4 separate regions of the Homo sapiens genome follow, and all the other regions are linked to region 2. The links come from fine-mapping of genetic effects on gene expression. A gene starts in region 2. Each other region holds a variant in brackets. All regions are shown on one strand. Distances are between the middles of the regions.

Evidence for each region. PIP is the estimated chance that this variant, and not a neighbour inherited with it, causes the effect.
Region 1: its variant is fine-mapped to the expression of CLHC1 in nasal epithelium (TOPMed, PIP 0.91).
Region 3: its variant is fine-mapped to the expression of CLHC1 in whole blood (INTERVAL, PIP above 0.99).
Region 4: its variant is fine-mapped to the expression of CLHC1 in whole blood (TOPMed, PIP above 0.99). The same link has a PIP of 0.9 or more in cerebellum.

Annotation. Positions count from the first base shown.
Region 1 is chr2:55,178,165-55,183,316 of GRCh38, reverse strand. It overlaps CLHC1 (clathrin heavy chain linker domain containing 1), which reads left to right. Exons shown (of 13, transcript NM_152385.4): 10 at 1,573-1,747; 11 at 2,605-2,807. Among named protein-coding and RNA genes, the nearest start is that of CLHC1, 52 kb to the left of the region's middle. The variant T/A (reference allele first, on the strand shown) is at 2,809.
Region 2 is chr2:55,229,714-55,234,862 of GRCh38, reverse strand. CLHC1 (clathrin heavy chain linker domain containing 1) reads left to right here and starts at 2,570. Exons shown (of 13, transcript NM_152385.4): 1 at 2,570-2,640. It overlaps RPS27A (ribosomal protein S27a), which reads right to left and starts at 2,175. Exons shown (of 6, transcript NM_002954.6): 1 at 2,155-2,175; 2 at 1,991-2,055; 3 at 1,446-1,500; 4 at 659-744; 5 at 1-32. The coding sequence starts at 2,038. RefSeq lists enhancers at 1,896-2,075, 2,096-2,525.
Region 3 is chr2:55,203,775-55,208,926 of GRCh38, reverse strand. CLHC1 (clathrin heavy chain linker domain containing 1) reads left to right here. Exons shown (of 13, transcript NM_152385.4): 8 at 217-301; 9 at 2,551-2,657. Among named protein-coding and RNA genes, the nearest start is that of CLHC1, 26 kb to the left of the region's middle. The variant G/TG (reference allele first, on the strand shown) is at 3,033.
Region 4 is chr2:55,166,075-55,171,226 of GRCh38, reverse strand. No RefSeq gene overlaps it. Among named protein-coding and RNA genes, the nearest start is that of CLHC1, 64 kb to the left of the region's middle. The variant G/A (reference allele first, on the strand shown) is at 2,556.

The DNA.
Region 1 (5,152 bases), 52 kb after region 2:
CACATAGCTTTTTTTCACTCGCTTTTAGATATTAATAGTTTTATTTTTAGGTACCCAAAAGTCTAGTCTAAACTAAATAGAAACTGCAATCTCTTGTTTAATCTAAAATTTTTCCCCTTACCCTGGTTAGGCTCTGATTTGGCTCTAGAACCTATTGAGGCTCAGGAGACATGTTTGCTTCTTCTTTACTCTGCTACTCTCTCCTCTTCTAATCACTAGGCAGCTTTACAGTGGGGTTATATAAGGGACAGGAAAGGTCTTACTCAACTGGTGCAGTGGTCATTAGGCTTTGATGTTTCTTGGGTGTGGTAGATGCCCAATGTTGCCTCCTAGTTTACTGCTTTAGTCTTTGTTTTTTAGGGCCTTCCCTCACTGGGGACTTTCCATTGTGCCTTTTATTGATTCAGGAGGTATTACTTTAGCTGGCTGCTAATGATTCTGGTGGTGTGTACCCCCAAAGACTCTCTCAGGTGGGGTTATCTGGTCTGCATGCAGACCTCTCTGAGAGAGCCTTTTCAAGACAACCAGCCTACCCGCCTTTCATGGAATCTCCTTCACCCTTAAGGAACATGCAATCTTGTGAAAGTAGAATTTGCTCGTACTTTAATTCTCTTTACTCACTCTAGCCTTTCACCTTTAAACTTTCCAGGCAAATATCAGGCTCTGGTCTTTTTGTTCTCTAAATTCCAAGACATCCATATCCAGTAGTTCTCTCTAAACTGTCTCACTTGACTTTGAGGAGGAGAATTAAAGAAAAATCTAGGAAATAAGATATGGTGGTAAATTTATTTTCTGCTCACAAAAAGGAAAATAATCTGATGGATTAATTAAGAGTTCAAATTGACAGTCTTCCTCCCCTGCAAGTTCAAGCATTGAGTGTACATACAGCTTAATAAAAAATGAATTGTAGTCATGCTGATTTGGGATTGACATACTTTTTTGGTCACTGGCTGAATCTACATGTAAATTTCAGGATCCTAATTTGTCATCCTCATTGAATTATTTTCAAAGTTAGGGTATGTTAGACTAAGTATATTCCTTTAAATGTCCAGTTTTATATTTGCCTCATTTGATTGGTCATTAAAGCAGGATAGTTTGCATTAGGAATTTTATCCTCTGTGTATCTGCAGCTGCACCTTTTGTTCTCTTCGGTCATAGCAAATTGGCCTCATTAACAGCAGAACCCTATTACTTAAAAGAAAAATATATTCGCTCACAGTTCTGGAGGCCAGAGCTCTGAAATCATGGTGTCAAGGGTTCATTCCTTCTGGAGGCTCTAAGGGAGATTCCATTCCATGCCTCTCTCCTAGCTTCTGGTGGTTGTCAGCGATTTTTAGCCTCCCTTGGCTTGTAGCAGATCATTCCAATCTCTGCCTCCATCTTCACATGGCACGTGATATTTAGTCATTTAGATAAAGTTTAATCTATAAGCATGAGTTAAAAATTATAAATGTGTAATTTTAGATTGTTAAAGTTTTAGAAAAGCAAAGGCACAAAAATAGTAATATGAGATAAGAAAAAGCAAACTATTTCTTAAAGTATTTGACTCAGAAAATTTTCTCCTTTCTGTAGCTGTTGGAAAAATTAGAGGAAAGCCTCTTCCATTACTCTTATTTTTTGAGGCCCTCTTTATCACAAGTCATGCTTTTCCATGTCCTGTTGATGCAGCTCTAACCCTGGAAGGAATCAAATGTGGATTATCAGAAAAACGGTTAGATTTAGTTACCAATTGGGTTACACAGGAAAGGTAAGCAAAGTTAAGCTTTTAACTTAATTTTGACATTTCGTTAATAAAGTTGTTTGTTCTAAAAATATTAATAGCTTTATCAATATGTTACTTGAACATTTACTTCAGGTCCCTATTGCAATTAATCAGAAAGTGTTTAGTGGTCGGGTGTGGTGGCTCATGCCTCTAATCCCAACACTTTGGGAGGTAGAGGTGGGAGGATCGCTTGAGGTCAGGAATTCAAGACCATCTTGGCCAACATGGTGAAACCCTGTCTCTACTGAAAATACAAAAATTAGCCAGACGTGGTGGCCAGGTGCAGCAGCTCACACCTGTAATCCCAGCATTTTGGGAGTCCGAGGTGGGCAGATGACTTGAGGTCAGGAGTTCAAGACCAGCCTAGCCAACATGGTGAAACCCCATCTCTACTAAAAATACAAAAATTAGCCAGGCATGGTGGCGCACGGCTGTAGTCCCTGCTACTCAGGAAGCTGAGGCAGGAGAATCGTGTGAACCAGGGAGGCAGAGGTTTCAGTGAGACGAGATCGCGCCACTGCACTCCAGCCTGGGTGACAGAGCGAGACTCAATCTAAAAATATATATATATATGCATTTAGTTTCCTGTAGAAATCTAATTTTCTTAGCAAATACACCACTACATTCCAAATAACTTTATTTTCATATTGACTATTATCGGGGTGATAGAAATTGACAAGTAATCATTTCAATTACATAATCAATTGCCTATTAAATTGTAACTTGGAATTCTTACAGGTAGTAGAAAATCCAGTCCTACTGTGCTGAATTTTCAAATATTTCAGTCTCAGCCACTCATCAGGAATTTTCTAACATATGTCTTATTGATCTGCTTGTTCTAGACTGACATTTTCTGAGGAGGCTGGGGATGTGATTTGTGATTATGGGGAGCAGGATACTTATAACAAGGCCAAGTGCCTGGCTTTAGCTCAGATTGTCTACAGTGAATGTGGCCTGCACAAGAAAGCTATTCTTTGCTTGTGTAAACAGGGTCAGACTCATAGGGTCATGGAGTACATACAGCAGTTGAAGGACTTTACTACCGG[T/A]AAGTTAAAAAGTCTGCCATTTGTATACATTTGAATTCTGGGCTTTAATTGTAAGATTACCCATAATAGCAAGCACTACTTTAAACTTACGTTATAAAATCAATTTTATATATACCAATAAGTAGGAGATTTCTTGTGTAATTTTTCATGAACATAGTAAGCTGGAGCTGATTGGCTTTCATGCTGGATATTCAAAAATATTATGTATTTCCTCAAAATACAAACATTTAATAAGCCAGATAGTCCTGGAAATATACAGTTTTAAAGATAGATTTAGCAGATATACTAGAACATACTACATATATGATTTTTAAAAATAACTTATTTGTGAGATATATATATATATATTTTTTTTTGAGATGGAGTCTCACTCTGTTGCCAGGCTGGAGTGCAGTGCTGCGATCTTGGCTCACTGCAAGCTCTGCCTCCTGGGTTCACACCATTCTCCTGCCTCAGCCTCCCAAGTAGCTGGGACTACAGGTGCCCGCCACTACGCCCGGCTAACTTTTTGTATTTTTGGTAGAGACAGGGTTTCACCGTGTTAGCCAGGATGGTCTTGATCTCCTGATCTTGTGATCTGCCCGCCTCAGCCTCTCAAAGTGCTGGGATTGCAGATGTGAGCCACCGCACCCAGCCTGTGATATATAATGTTTTGAACTGTAATATAAGCATCAGAAATGAAGAATTTCTAATTTATTTCAAAATTTTAAAACACAATTGAACAGTAATCTGAGATTACAATTGAACGGTAATCTGAGAGAACTGTGGACCTTAGGGTGACCCTAGTTGGAAGAGCAGAGCTCTTATTCTGGATCTAGTTTGGCAATAACTGTAAGTACAGGCATTGCTGACATCTCCCCATCCCCCAGGCCAGTGCCTGTCCTGATTTGCAGGCTATGTATCCCAGTTCTAAGAAGATGCAAAATGGAACCAAACATGGCCATTTTTAGGTCACATTATTCCAGGAAAAAGGAGTTTTAGTAGTTGTTGAATCTGGTCATTTTCAAGCAATTAATTGACTTTTTCTTAGAATCTATGTTGTTGTTTTTTTAAGTTACAAATTTCTTCATTAATAACAGCATGCCCTATACTATTATTGTAATAATAGCTAGGCTTTTTTTCATGGATTATCTCACTTAATCCTTATGTTGACTCTATGAGGTAGGTTTTGTTATTGTCCCATTTTATAGATGCAAAAATAGTATGTTTCCACAGAGAGGCTGAGGCACAGCTAGAGCTAAGTGATTTGGTTATGTAGTGACAGGACAGAATCTGGCATAGTAGGTATTAATTAATATTCCATTACCTAAGTATACAGTTTCAGTTTCTGTGTTGTTAACTATTATTTTTCCATATGTAAGAATTATATTAGTTAATGTTTAGACATGGGATATAGATTTTAATTACTCTTAGAATTTAAAAATTTTAGGGATGGGTCTGTAGTCCCAGCCACTCAGGAGGCTGAGATGGGAAGATCGCTTGAGCCCAGGAGTTCTAGGCTGCAGTGAGCTGTGATTGTGGCACTGCATTCCTGCCTGGGCATCAGAGTGAGACCTTATCCAATAATAATAATAATAATAATAATAATAATTTTTTAAAAAATAAAATGGATTTTGAAATGTAGTAAGAAAAAGGGAGACGAGGAGTTCAAGAGTAGCCTGGAGCAACATAGTGGGACCCCATCTCTATATATTAAATACATTTTAAAAACCCAAGGCTTTCAGAGTTCAAATTATGTTTCGGGTAGTCCTTGAAAGGCTCTCAGAAGTTATTCTGAAAATTACCTCTATTGTGGCCGCAAAATAATATTTTTACTTTAAAATATTTAGGAAGTTAATACCAAGTTTATAAATTTGAGAGTATAGAGTGGGGCATGCCTGTAATCTCAGCTACTGGGAAGGCTGAGGCGGGAGACTGCGTGAGCCCAGGAGTTTGAGGATACAGTACACAATCATTATGCCTATGGTGAGCCATGCACTCCAGCCTGGGCCACACAGTGAGACTTTGTTTTGAAAAAATTTAAGAATACAAATCATAATTGTAGCTTTAGATTACCTCAATGGTTAACTATTGGGTTAACCCAATAGAGATTAACCCATATGGAATTGTTCTTTTTGTGGCCAAATATAGGAAACTTCATATGGTTCCACCTCTGGCTACTTGAAATAGCTACTGGCTTCTTAAAGTTTTCATTTTTGAATTTCTAAATGCTTGATAGTTTTAGGAAAAAAATTACTGAGTTGCTTTTTCTGTGCAAGGCACAGAAAGAAAGACATTATACTCACCAGAATTTGGTCCAAATATGAGCAACAAGATATAGACAAACAAACTGTAGTATTAGATG
Region 2 (5,149 bases):
CGAAGTCTCAACACAAGATGAAGAGTAGACTCCTGTTAATGGAAGAATGAAGCAAGCTTTCATGATTCCACTAAGAATGGGCACACCCAACATTATGCATTTTCTAATTAAAAGCAGTAGCAGCACACAATAACATTTGAGGGAATCTTGCAGCCCCCAAACCCAATAAAGTATCAGATTCTTAACTGACAGTTTATAGGGACATTAAAGAATGCATTACATTACACCATGGGATACAACTTGCAAAATTCATAATGGGAGAACTATAGCAGTGCTTCTCAAGTATCAGTATAGGAGTTACCTAAAAATCTACTGCTATTCGAATGCCATTTTCCCTTTTTGTGTGTCAAAATGTCCAGAATACACCACATGGAGTGGCTCACGTCTGTAATCCCAGCGCTGGGAGGCCACGGTGGGAAGATCACTTATGCCCAGGAGTTTGAGACCAGCCTGGGCATGGTGGCGGGTGCCTATAGTTCCAACTACAGGAGGCTGAGGTGGGAGGACCACCTGAGTCTGAGAGGTGGAGGTTGCAGTGACTGCGCCACTCACTCCACCCTAGGTGACAGAGTCAGAGCCTGTCTCAAAAAAAGTAAAATAAAAAATTTCCAAAATAACATTTTTTTTTTAAAAGAGGCTGCTCTTCCCCTAGACAGACCTTTTGAATATTGTAGTCAGACAAAGTACGTCCATCTTCCAGCTGCTTGCCAGCAAAGATCAGTCTCTGCTGATCAGGAGGAATTCCTAATGACAAAAAACAAAAATTAAGTCACAGCACACCAAGCCTGTGATGTGCTCCAGACTTATAAGGTAACACCCCTTAATCAAATACATGATACTAAAGGCTGACAATAAGCCCTTACTAGAGGTTAGGCATGGTTCTAAATCTTTACATGTCACATTTTACCGCATTTAATATTAGGGACAATACTTGGTTGTCTGCAGTGGCTGACACCTGTAATACCAATACTTTGGGAGGTCGAGGTGGGCAGATCACTTGATGTGAAAAGTTCAAAACCAGCCTGGCCAACAAGGTAAAACCCAGTCTCTACTAAAAATACAATAAATTAGCCAGGCATGGTGGTGCACGCCTGTAATCCCCACTAATAGGGAGGCTGAAGCACAAAAATCACTTGAACCCGGGAGGCGGAGGCTGCAGTAAGCCGGGACAAGCGAATGCACTCCAGCCTGGGCGACAGAGGAGACTCCATCTCACACAAAATAAATAAATAAGTGTCCAAATTCACGCAAGTGAAATACACCTCAAGGATTCCAATCTAGGTACTGTGCTCCCCGATCACCAATGTCTATTGTGTTATTCCACAAGTATTTCGCTTTGTCAATCTGACCCCTTCCCCCATCACCAAGAGCAGGTATGTCTAGCACCTACAGGTAGGCCGAAGTCTCCGCAGGTTAAGTTTTCTTAACTACAAAATACTACTTGCCTTCCTTATCCTGGATCTTGGCCTTTACATTTTCTATCGTATCCGAGGGTTCAACCTATGAGTGTTAAAGTGAAAGCATGTTGGTTACACATTAAGGAACTACAGCAGAACTCATTTAGTTTGACAATTACCACTGAACCGAACCAGCGACAGGGCTGAGACCTACTCGAGAGACCTATTACCCACCCAGTGGGCAACCTCCCAAGTCGGCTACCGGAAAGCACCTTCATCTCCCCAGCCCAGAGCGGGCGGCGGCCGCAGGGCCACACGTGCTCGCACCCGGCGGGCAGAGCGTCTCCTTCCCCACCGCAGCTCCTCCGTTTTAACTAACTAGCTGGAACCCCTCGAGAGGAGACAGGTCCAGCCTTTGGCCACCGAAAATCACCTCTAGGTCGTTGCTCAGCAAAAGGTACTCATTTCAAAGCTTAAGTTTTAGAACCCAAATTCGGAATCATGGTCTAAGACATGGAAAGCAGCGCCGGTCCTAAAATCCACCTCAGGACCTTATTCGGACCTTGGCTTCCTCATGACCACCCGGCCCGTACCTCGAGGGTGATGGTCTTCCCCGTAAGGGTTTTCACGAAAATCTGCATTTTGGTGGCGGCTCCACCTGAGGTTGAGGAAAAGGAAGAGACAGGTTAGGTCAGGGATCACAAGAGAAGGCACCATAGGGTGCTAACCCGAGAGCAGCCGAAGTGCAGACACCCACCGCAGATGGCGGATCGAAAAGGAAGAACGCCGCGCAGGCCCACGGGGTTTCCCGGAGCTCCCGCCGAAGGACCCACCCCTTAGGCGACCACACCAAATGCCTGACTGCCGTCCCAGCGACAATCCAACCCGGTGCCAGACTAGGACGTGAACTTCGTTTCTCCTCTCCCTAGCCTGGGCTTATTTCTCACTTTAGCCTTCGGAATGCTTTCGAAACTGTAGGTTTAAGCAACGTAAAAGATGTTTTAAAAAGGCTTTTCCCGTACAATCAACGTGGCTAAGAGAATTTTTAAAAGGAGGTCGAGGGGGGCCTCTTGGGGAAGAGGTAGGAAATGGAAGTGCATTCTGGGAACTGTAGTTCTCCACTGCTTTCTTCTACCTTGGACTACTTGTCCCAAGATGCAGTTCCACCTCCCAGATTCCCTAGTTACTATCTCTAAGCACTGAAGTCGGTGTTTGGAGAAAAGGACTCAGGTGAGGACTGGAGGTAGGATGAAGCGGAATAATGGTTTCCGGAGCGTGGGAACGGGCCGGAAGTGACTAGAGCAAATGTTAAGCGGGGGGCAAAGGGTGCGGGGCACGAAAGGTGTCCTTCACTCACTTCCAGAAGCGGTGATGGGCAGAGAATCAGCAATCTACCAGACGCTCCTTGGGCCTTCAAGGGAAGGGAATTTGCGTGGCCTGCTCCAGGCAAACTGAAAAATAGGTGAAATCTGCGGAAGCGGGGGTTCAGCCCTTTCTCTCCTGTAGCGCCTCCCTGCTTTCAACCGCCGAGTCTCTCCCAGCCTAGGGAAGAGTCTGGGTCTTGTGTGTCACTCCTTAGTGTGACACGCTTTAATATGTTGAAAAATCTCAGGAGTTTTCAAATTTTAAAGTGAAGCCGTACGGAAAAGAAACCTGCAGAATGGTTATTTAGTTGTAGAATTTCCAAATTTGGGCATTGGGAGTCTTGGATCTGAGAGGAAGTTTTTGGAGTATGTATGGGGTGCTTCTTCCGGCAAGGAGGCCAATTAGAAGCAAGTTCTCCCTGTCCTTTCTCCACTCCACAAACCAGAGTCCTTTCTAATGTCTTCTGTATTTATTTCTTCATCCTCTGCCCTCTGCGACCCCATCCCCAAATTCAGACCTTAATTTTCTCTTGTAGGGGTTCCGAATCTAACTCCTTATCTCTCTCCAGTCTTTCCTCCTTTCTAACCCACCTTCACTATTGCCTCCAAAATATTCATTCTGAAAGGTAAATGTGTGTTATTATTTTATACCTCACCTTCAGGATACAATTCAAATTTCTTAGAATGACATTCAGCCTCTGCCTTCCTTACAACCTAATCTGCTAAACCCATTACTCTACATTTTAGTAAATGAAGCTAATTTAATTTCCTGACCTATGCCCTCCCGTGTTTTGGCATTTCTGAAGAATCCAGTCGTTTATTCTTCCTGGAACTTTTTTTTTTTTTTTTCGTGAGACGGAATTTCGCTCTGTTGCCCAGGCTGGAGTGCAGTGGCGCGGTCTCGGCTCACTGTAAACTCCGCCTCCCAGGTTCAAGCAATTCTTCTGCCTCAGCCTCCCGAGTAGCTGGGATTACAGGCGCCCACCACCACACCCGGCTAATTTTTGTATTTTTAGTAGAGATGGGGTTTCACCATGTTGGCCAGGCTGTTCTCTAGCTCCTGACCTCAAATGATCCATCCTCCTTGGCCTCCCAAAGTGGTGAGATTACAGGCGTGAGCCACCACGCCCTGCCTCCTGGAACATTTTTCATCCCCTAGTCCGCCAACTAGTCTCTACAACAAAATTTCCTAGAGTTGCTTGTACATATTGTCTCTAATCTTTCCCTTCCGTTGTCTGAACCCACTCCTGTCAGGCTTTTGTCCCCACCATTCTGATCGGATAGCTCTTGTAATGGTCACTAATGACCTCCATGTTGCTAAATTCAATGGTCATTTCATCTTATTTGATCTGTCAGCAGTATTTGACACAGTTGCTCATTCCATCTCTCTTTGAAAACCTTTCAAAGACTTCACCTCTCAGTTTTTCTGCCACCCTGGAGGCTCTTTTCCAGGCTCATTTGCTGCTTCCTCTTGATCTGCAAGACCTCTAACCATGGAGTATCCCCAAGGCCCAGTCCTTGGACCTCTGCTTTGTCTGCATTTTCTTGGTTATCTCATTTTTGTTTAATAACTTTTAAAGTATCATCATATGCAAATGACTCATAAACTTATCTGTCAGACCAGATATGTCACAGATATGTCACAACTTCATCTTCACATATCCAGCTATCTACTCAACATCTCTAATGGACAGGCCCCAAACACTTAATCTCATGAAATTGCTCTTCCCATGTTTATATATGGCAATTCCCATTTCTCCAGTCACTAAGGCCAAAAACTTTATGATTATCCTTGACTGTTCTTTTATATCCCACATCTTATCTACCTTGGCAGATCTTGGCTTTATTTTCAAAATATATGCAGAACACTTCCTACCACCTCCATTGTTAGCACCCTGATTCAAGCCACCATCATCTTTTGCCTTGATTATTGCAGTAGCTTCGTAACAGCACTTCCAGCTTTGACCCTTGCGTCCTATAATCTGTTTTCCACAGAGCAACAAGAACAATTCTTTTTTTTCTTTTTTTTGAGATGGAGTTTCGCTGTTGTTGCCCAGGCTGGAGTGCAATGGCACAATCTTGGCTCACCGCAAACTCTGCTTCCCGGGTTAGGTGATTCTCCTGCCTCAGCCTCTCCAGTAGCTGGGATTACAGGCATGCGCCACCACGCCCAGCTAATTTTGTATTTTTAGCAGAGACAGGGTTTTTCCATGTTGGTCAGGCTGGTCTGGAACTCCCGACGTCAGGTGATCTGCCCGCCTTGGCCTCCCAGAGTGCTGGGATTACAGGCATGAGCCACCATGCCTGGCCAAGAACAATTCTTTAAAATGTTAAGTCAGCTCTCCCACTCTTCTGCACACAGGCCTCTAAAGGCTTCGAATCTCACTC
Region 3 (5,152 bases), 26 kb after region 2:
TGCACTCCAGCCTGGGTGACAGAGCCAGACTCCGTCTCAAAAAAAAAAAAAAAAAAAAAAAGAGGAAAGGGACGGGGAGGCCACTAAGTTTAGGAAGAGGTTGCTGCTGTTAGGAGCCATAGCAATAAGCTGTTGGTATTAAACACATGTATGTTTATTGTTTTCTATTGGTAAGTAACCTTAAATATCTTCCAGTAGTACTTTCAATATTTACAGGTGACCAAGGCATTGTTGAAGAACTAATGGAAGATGATCCACGCAGGGCAAAAGAAGCTGAAATTATGCTTCACTACATTGAAAGGCAAATATTTTAAAAGCTTTAATTTTTCAGAATTATATTTTTTCATAGATTCTTTGTGAATAACATACCAGATTGGGAATCTAGGAGATTTTTCAGAGGAGATAAGAGGATTATAATGTTGATATGTTTTATTTATACAGGTTAAGCATTCCTAATCCAAAAATTTGAAATCTGAAATGCTCCAAAATCCGAAAAATTTTGAGCACTGACATGAGATAGTGATACCTCTGTTTTGTGATAGATCAATATGTACACAAATTTTGTTTCATGCACAAAATTATTAGAAATATTATATAAAATTGCCTTCAGGCTATGTGTATATGGTATATATGAAATATAAATTTTGTGTTTAGACTTGGATCCCATCCCCAAGATATCTCATTATGTACATGCATATATTCCAAAATATGAAAAAATCTGAAATCCAAAACACTTCTGGTCCCACGCATTTAGGATAAGGGAAACCCAGCCTGTATTTTTCTTACATTTCCTAGCTATCAACCTGATGTTACAAAATGTTTTTGAGAATGTCTTCCTGATTCAGATTATTCTAGCCAATTCAGTCCTTTCTTTCTCATTACTTCTATCCCCTGACTTATTAAGGAGGCATATTTCTCCCTAATACTTAAGTTATTATACATAGTATATAAGATTAAAGAGATTTAAGACTATATTCTTTTTTACTTTGTTTACTTTTTATCAAACATTACTTTCATCAAATATTTCAAGTATACATAAAAATACAGACAATAACATTAACAAAATGTTATTCTGTGTACCAACTTAGCAAGAAATTAACATTTTGCCGTATTTACTTCAGCTCTTTTTGTAGAAGTTTGTTACAGTTGACATCCTACTGTGTATCATTCCTGCTATCTTCAATTCCTTTTCCCTCCTTTTTTCCCCTCACAGTTGCTCCCCTGGTGTTTAACATGCAGGAGCATTTTTAAACATTTTTAATACATAGTAAGACTATATTCTTTAAGAGGTTAATTCATAGGCTATGACGCTTATCTGTAATGAACATATGTAATATTCCTGGTCTTTATATGTTAAACAGTTTTCAACTGTTAATTGGATTGTTGGTATGGTAAAAAGAAGGGGGTAAATATAATTTTGGGCAGAGCACAAAAGCTCATGTTATTTCCTTACACTGTAATGCTTCTGTAAGTCTGACAGTTTGATATGAGAGAAAAACCCTTGTTGAGATTGAAAGTTTTATGTATTTTGCTTAATATTACTTTAGTGGGTTTTCCGCCTGGGGCTCCACATTCATTTGCAACACTGTGTAACTTCTGTTTATCATAGTTTTATTAATTGTGAGGTAAGGACTGATTTGAAGACCTTTTGCCATAGGAAGAGGAGTAGAGGCTTAAGTTATCTTAACTATTATCTTTCCTTCTTGTGCTAATCTTCGATTGGGAACCTGTTGCCTGGCAGAACAACATAGGCTTCTGAATACCAAGGACACCTCTTGATCTCCAGTTTGGCAGCTTCATTTTTTTTTTTTTCAGACGGAGTCTCACTCTGTCGCCCAGGCTGGAGTGCAGTGGCACAATCTTGGCTCACTGCAACCTCTGCCTCCCGGGTTCAAGTGATTCTCCTGCTTCAGCCTCCTGAGCAGCTGGGACTACAGGCACATGCCACCACGCCTGGCTAATTTTTTTTTTTTTTTGTATTTTTAGTAGAGACAGGGTTTCACCATCTTAGCCAGGATGGTCTCGATCTCCTGACCTCGTGATCCCCCATCCTCGGTCTCCCAAAGTGCTGGGATTACAGGCATGAACCACCATGCCCGGCCCAATTTGGTAGGTTCTATCTTCAATTAATATTTCCTTTAGGCGATGTTTCTAAGCAGATTGCCCTTCTTTCCTCTGATGCCAGTACTTTTTCATGTGGAGATGATATGCAGGGAAAAAAATCTGAGTTCATAATAAATTCAAGTTCTTTCTTCCATCCTCTATGGCTTGCTGTAAGTGCTATAGGAATAAAGTTTAGGATCATGTTCAAAGTCAGCTAGCAGGTGGGAGTTTTATTCTGAGACTTAAAAAAAACCCAACAGAGTACTAGAGAAGGATTTCAAGGAACATCTTACAGTGTGAATGATTCTAGTTATAGTTTATTAGAATTCCTTTTTGTTTTTCCATATCGTTATGCCGCTATATTTAGTCTGTATTAAACATTTCTAATCAGTTTTTTCTCTTTTTCTTTGTGTCATTATAATGCATTTTAAAATGTGATGGCTATAGGTTTAATGAGTTAATCTCACTTGGTGAATATGAAAAGGCAGCTTGTTATGCAGCAAACAGTCCTAGAAGAATTCTTCGAAACATTGGTACAATGAATACATTTAAGGGTAAGCATTTCTCTCTGAACCTTATATATGTATGAAAATTTACTACTTTTTCTCTCATAAAATAGAAAAAGCATTAAACTGGGAGACTAAAGATCTAGGCCCCAGCCCTATCTCTACCATTTACTCAGTTTGCTTAGCAGTAACATTAGGGATTTGATTAGATTTTCTAAATTACATTATGAACGATTTTAAGTATACAGAAAAGTATGGAGAAACATTAACACCCATGTACTCACTATCAAGATTTAATAAATGTTAATACTTTGTCAAATTTGCTCCACATCCTTTTAAAACACAGCTTCCTTGTGGTAAATTGACATAATACAACAAATTGTACATATTAAAGTACACAATTTGGTAAGTTTTTTTTTTTTT[G/TG]AGACAGAGTTTCATTCTTGTTGTCCAGGCTGGAGTGCAGTGCACAGTCTTGGCTCACTGCCACCTCTGCCTCCCAGGTTCAAACGATTCTCCCGTTTCAGCCTCCCGAGTAGCTGGGATTACAGGTGTGTGCCACCACACCCATCTAAATTTTTTGTATTTTTAGTTGAGACAGGGTTTCCCATGTTGGCCAGACTGGTTTCAAACTCCTAACCTCAGGCAATCCACCTGCTTTGGCCTCCCAAAGTACTGGAATTACAGGTGTGAACCATCGTGCCCAGCCCAATTTGGTAAGTTTTGACATATGCATACACCCATGAGATTATCACTCAAAAGTTCCCTCATGCCCCTCAGTATCCCTCTCTTCCTGCTACTTCCTAGTTCTCTCGCCCTAATTTATTTTACTTAGGATAATGGCGTTCAGTTTTATTTTATGGCTGAGTAGTATTCTGTGGTGTGTGTGTGTGTGTGCGTGTGTGTGTGTGTGTGTGTGTATTTTCTTTATCCAATCATCCCTTGATGGACACTTAGGTTGATTCTCTGACTTTGCTATTGTGAATAGTGCTGTGATAAACATAATGAATGCAGGTGTCTTTTTCATATAATAGTTTATTTTCCTTTGGGTAGATACCCAGTAGCGGGATTGCTGGATTGAATGGTAGTTCTATTTTTAGCTCTTTGAGAAATTTCCATACTGTATTCCATAGAGATTGTACTAATTTACATTCCCACCAAAAATGTAAAAGCGTTCCCTTTTCTCCACATCCTCTCCAACATCTGTTGCCTTTTGACTTTTTATTAATAGCCATTCTGATTGGTGTAAGATGGTATCTCATTGTGATTTTGTAGTTCCCTGCTTTGTAGATTTCCCTGCTTTGGGCAGTATGGCCATTTTAACAATTTAACTATTTTTTTTAACCCATTAAACAGCCCAACTCCCCCACCCAACTCCCCTACTACCCTTCATAGCCTCTGGTAACCATCCTTCTACTGTGTTCATGAGTTCAATTGTTTTTATTTTTAACTCCACCAACAAGTGAGAACATGTGAAGTTTGTCCTTCAGTGCCTGGCTTATTTCACCTAACATAATGACCTCCGGTTCCATCCATGTTGTTGTAAATGATAGGATCTCATTCTTTTTTATGACTGAATAGTACTCCATTGCCTATACGTACCACATTTTCTTTCCATTTGTCTGTTGATGGACACTTAGGTTGCTTCCAAATCTTGGCTATTGTGAATAGCACTGCATTAATCATAGGATTGTTGATCATATGGTATAATCATAGGATTGCTGGATCATATGGTAACCCAAGTTTTCATTTTTTGAGGAACCTCCAAAGTGTTTTCCGTAGTGGTTGTACTAATTTACATTCCCACCAACAGTGTACAAGGGTTCCCTTTTCTCCACATTCTTGCCAGCATTTCTTATTGCCTGACTCTTGGATAAAAGCTACTGTTTTAAGTGGGCTGAGATGATATCTCATTGTAGTTTTGATTTGTATGTCTCTAATGATCAATGATGTGGAGCACATTTTCATATGCCTGGTTGCCATTTGTATGTCTTCTTTTGAGAAATGTCTATTCAAATCTTTTGCCTTTTCTTTTTTTGACAGAGTTTCCCTCTTGTTGCCCAGGCTGGAATGCAATGGCGTGATCTCGGCTCACCACAACCTCCGCCTCCCAGGTCCAAGTGATTCTCCTACCTTAAACTCCCTAGTAGCTGGGATTACAAGCATGCACCACCATGCCCAGCTAATTTTGTATTTTTAGAAGAGATGGGGTTTCATCATGTTGGTCAGGCTGGTCTCTAACTCCTGACCTTAGGTGATCCACCTGCCTTGGCCTCCCAAAGTGTTGGGATTACAGGTGTGAACCACCTCACCTGGCCATCTTTTGCCCATTTTTAATCAGATTATTAGATTTTTTTCCTATGGAGTTGTTTGAGCTCCTTATGTATTCTGGTTATGAACTCCTTGTTAGGTGGGTAGTTTGCAAATATTTTCTCCCATTCTGTGGGTTGTCTCTTCACTTCGTTGATTGTATCCTTTCTGTGCAGAAGCTTTTTACCTTGATGTGATCCCATTTGTCCATTTTTTTCTTCAATTGCCTGTGCTTA
Region 4 (5,152 bases), 64 kb after region 2:
ACTGTATGCCATAAGCTTGGTTAAGAAGCAGTATTGCAGTTTTAAAATAGAGGCTATAAAATTACATTTTGAAGATTTGCCTACATGGATCCTTGCCTCTATCCAGTTAGCTCTTTAGTGGAAATTCCACTGTGGCTGTGGGGGGTCTCCATTATCATGTCATATATCAAACTGCAGCAATAATCACCACCAAGCATTTTTAGCTCTCCACTGGGTGCAAACTCTACCTTTAAGCTTTCATGTGTATTAATGTGTTAGGGCCACACTGAGAAGGATCCATCTTTTCCACTCAAGGAACAGTTGTATGGGTTAAATTCTGTTATCTTGTTTTATTAGGTCAGATAATAAAAATACTATCATAAATAGAGTGAGCTTTAGGTGGGTTTGTGCTTAACAGGAAGGGCATGTCACCCTTCTACCACTTTGGTTGTACACAGATCAGAATGTGTGACAACACATTCCCATCCATTTTCTCCTGGAACTCTTCCTTCGCCTCATACTGCTCACACATTTTGACTATATTGTTGTTATTGTTGTTGTTTGAGACGGAGTCTTCCTCTGTCACTCAGGCTGGAGGGCAGTGGTGCGATCTTGGCTCACTGCAACCTCCACCTTCTGGGTTCAAGTGATTATCCTGCCTCAGCCTCCCAAGTAGCTGAGATTACAGGCGCCCCCCACCACGCCTGGCTAATTTTTGTATTTTTAGTAGAGATGGGGTTTCACCATGTTGGCCAGACTGGTCTCAAACTCCTGACCTCAGGTGATCTGCCCGCCTTGGCCTCCCAAAGTGCTGGGATTACAGGCGTGAGCCACCATGTCCAGCCTGCTCACACACTTTGGTAATGTACATTTTGGAAGCAGCCCCCAGCAGTGGGACTGAATTGTCAAAAGATTTTTGCCAAATTGCTTAAAGAGTTAGGCGTTTATGAATTAATGATGATGAGTTTTGATTGCAGGCCCTGACCAACCCAAAGAGCAAACAGTTTGAAAAGTCAGCTTGAAAAGTCTGCAGGCTGTTTTTGGCCAGCCTCCTTGAGGTGAGTACTTAATGTTGATCAGCTTCTGAACACAACATCCAGAAACAGGTTTGTGCTGCTACTAGGATCAATAATGAGAATGCGAAAAACATTGGCAGAGAGATTCCAGTGGCCTTCCAGATTGCAGTGCAGAGAGCCTGCTTGCCAAGAAACCAAACATAGGTATTAATCTTGGCATCCGAGAATGTGACTCTCCCTGTTTTCTTGAGGGTGCAGGGACAGGGAGAATAATTGCCAAGGCTATTCCTTCTATTCCTTTGCCCAGGTTGGTCCCCTAGAGATGGAAAAAAGTCCTTTATGCTATTTGTGTGTATAAACAGTCTCCAAGTTTCTTCTACCCTCTGGGTATGCTTTTTCAGGTGTCAAATGAACATGATAATATTTTCTAAGAGATGATTTTCATGCTGACTCTTTCCCTAAGGAACAAGAGGTCTTGAAGAGCTCATAACACCAGTAGCAGATACCAGAAAAAGGTGCATATCTTAAACCCAAGTGACACATAAATTAGACATCAATAAGATTACAGCTACTCTCATTCTGTGATTTGTAATCCATGAAAAATTGCTTATAAAATGAATGTTTTCTAAATGAAACAGGACTGAAATGGTTATTTTGAAGAAATTTTCCTGGGAATGCTCTGTGAGATGAATCACCAACTCCTAATTTATCTGCCTGGTAAATGTTAGGTTTGCCTAATGCAAAGTGTCCCATTGATAGGGATAATAGCAGGCACCACAAACACTTGTTGAAATCATCTTTGCTTAAATGCTAAATAGAGCATCGAAACTAGTTTGAGGCTTCACATTAAGAAAACTGTTACTAATTTTGAGCATGTATAGATCGTGAAGATGTAGAAAGAAAAGTTGAAGGAATGGGGTTATTCAATTTGGGAAGAAAAAAACAAACATATAATCACAGTTCTGCCTTTGAGTGTCCAAAAGCCCTCACCTTAAGGATACAACAAACTCTAAGCCACATGAGCCATAGAACTAAATAATAAACCATTTTTATTTGAGACAGAATAATTTGCTGATGGTGGAGATTGTGAAGGCTGGTATTGGGTCAATAAAGAAAGTTGTAGAAGGAGCTACTCTGAAAGCCTTAAAAAATAAACTAGTTGCTCTCTTCTGTTTGATATAATTATGGTAGTTTCTGGGTTTTAGAGGAGTCCTAAAGAAAATTCTTGAGATGATCTTTTTTGGAGAAGCCCTGTGCAACACTCAAAATTACTTAATCCAACAACCATTTCCTGATTAGCTACTAAGAGAGGAATAAGACATCCTATGTATCTCATGGGTACTTGCAATCTAGAAGTAAAGTTATATACAAACAATTGTAATACAACATGGTAAGAGTTAAAATGGAAACATAACAGAACAATGACCTTTCTTGGTTAGGATTTACTAGAATATGTGCCAGTTTGACTCAGTAGATGGCGGCAGAGATGCCAGCAAGACCTTCAGTGATTGGAATTGTTTTTATGGGGAAGAAGTGAGGCTGGTCCTATTGTTTCTAGTC[G/A]TATTTTTCAATATAGTCATATTTTCTGGTTGGAAAGCTTGAGCAGCTCAAGGACCATTCTTGGAGGATTTGTATTCTTAAGAAGATGGCCCTTTAAGGAAAATTTACTCTATATGAAAATATGTAAACATCCAAGCACTTTTTCATATTTAGCTTTTCAGTGAAATAGGGATGAGGGTGGGGTGAGTGGGGTGAGTCCAGGCCTGGAGAGAGGACTTTGTTTTCTAAACATAGCATTTATTTTCGAGGCACTTCAAAGGATGTATTGTAGTAGGATCCTGCTCTTTATGCAGCAATCCTACACTGTTAGACGCTTGACCAGGCCCCTCGTGGCTTGGCTGACTTTTCTGTTTGTGCTGCTTTGGGCTGAAGCACAGGCTAGTTGAAGAGTTGTTGCTGATGCCGTAACTGTAGCTTTGAAACCTTTTGGCATGCTCAGTGTATTCTTCAGGAAACTAAGAAATGTAGACTTAGAAATAACCCAAGCCAGACAACTTGTTGCCAGATTGTGGGGAGTGTATTCTCCCAAAATCATTGAGATGGTTTCAGAACTAACTGAAGAGAGTGCCTGGTTATTCTGCTTGCACAGTCTTCAAGCCTTGATTCAAAGTGGGGCAATGAGATTAGTGCAGAGGTGAAGGCAAGAGGCGTCTGTGTGTGCCTCCGGAGAGACCCTAGCCTAGGAAGCAATTCTGAGACTTTGTTATTTTCTGACCAGAACTGCCAGCTCACGGATCTCCACATACCACTTAGCTTTTGAAGGGAGCCTATGAGCCAAGGTTAAGTCTTCTTTCACCCCACAGTTGGGGTTTTATTTGTTGTCTTTGTTCCTCAGCTCTGTCTCCATCAAAAACAAGATAATGAGCTTGTTGGTCAAGCAGCTTGTAATTTTCCCAGGTCAGCTGAGTGTCTAGAGGAGGAGAAACAAGGCCTGATGATTCCTGAGTAGGTGAATACATTTAGGAGGACAGAGAATTATTTGTAAGTCAGGGTTTCTCAACCTCAGCACTACTGACAGTTTGGACGGGATAATTCTTTGTTATGTGAGGTTGTCCTGTGGCCTTGTGGATGCAGGACACTAGATGCCAGTAATCACCCTCCCCAACCCCAGCTCCCCTGGCTATCAGAAATTGTGTTAGGCCACGCCCAGTGGTTTGGCGCCACTAGTGTGAGTTTTCCTCATGAGTATAAAAACTCTACCACTCCACAGTTAAATGTCATAGTTACTGGGTGGATCTTCTGTAAACAGGGTCAGAGATAGTAAAGTAAGGGCCTGGACCTCCCTTATTTCTTTCTCCAACATAAATCACTACTTATCATTGCAGATCCAGAAAGCATCTTTTTTTTTTTTTTTTTTTTTTTTGAGATGGAGTCTCACTCTGTCACCAGGCTGGAGTGCAGTGGCGCCATCTGGGCTCACACAACCTCCGACTCCCTGGTTCAAGCGATTCTCCTGCCTCAGCCTCTTGAGTAGCTGGAATTACAGGCACGTGCCACCGCACCCTGCTAATTTTTGTATTTTTAGTAAAGGTGGGGTTTCACCATGTTGGCCAGGATGGTCTCAATCTCCTGACCTCATGATCCACCCGCCTCGGCCTCCCAAAGTGCTGGGATTACAGGAGTGAGCCACTGCACCCGGCCAAGAAAACATCTTGAGCTATGTACATGGAAACAAACAAACAAAACAAAACAGGCCTTATCTCACTTTCAACTCAGAAATCTCAGTATCTCAGGGATTCTTGGTAAGACAGAAGTAACTGATGTGCTCAGATTTCTCTTGTAGGCAGAAGGCTATCACCTTCAAGCATGAGCTGCCTGCCTTCTGAACTCGCAGACCGCCTCTTCCGTTCTCTGGGGGCACATTGGCTTCCGTGTTCCTAGGTTTAACCTTTCTTCTTCCCTTGATCCCTTTGTATCTTCAGTTAGGAGCCCAGGCTGTGGAAATGCTTGCCTGGAAGGGTGGGAACCAAAGTGCCCTCAGTGGCTTTAGAATGTGACTTGTTATTGCATCCACTTGTGCCATTTGTCAAAGAGGATGATAAAGACTTGGCTCTATTAGGTGAGAAATTGGCATAGCTATTAAACTGACTGACATTCAAACCAAGCTTTATTACAGAAAGCTACAGAGATGATAGGATTGAAAACATGACCTTTTGCCAGAAAGCTAGTGGGAAATGGGATCATTAACCTTGAAGAAATATTACAGATGAACCATAAAGGATTACTGAACAGAGAACCTCATACATGTTTTCTACTTCTGCTTAAGACAACAAAAAGAAATTCACACAGGAATTTAATTTAAGTTAAAACTTTAAATTATTGCAGGGAGATGTTTTTGATAGTTAAGGTTTATGAACTTTATAAGGGGTGACAGTTCCGAGGGTGGGTTTGGAGTGCTCTTTAAAGGTCTTTAAGAACTGGCTGTACCTATATCTGACTGATTGGTTGAGGAAGGGCAGGTTCTGTGAGGGAAGGGATCACCTTTTCAGTACCCCTGCTCTGATGCTTGGATGGCCCAATACACATGTTGTGGTTGACTGTAAGGTGGCACCAAACTTAATTCTCTAAATAAGGACTTGGGCAATGTTCTTCACGGT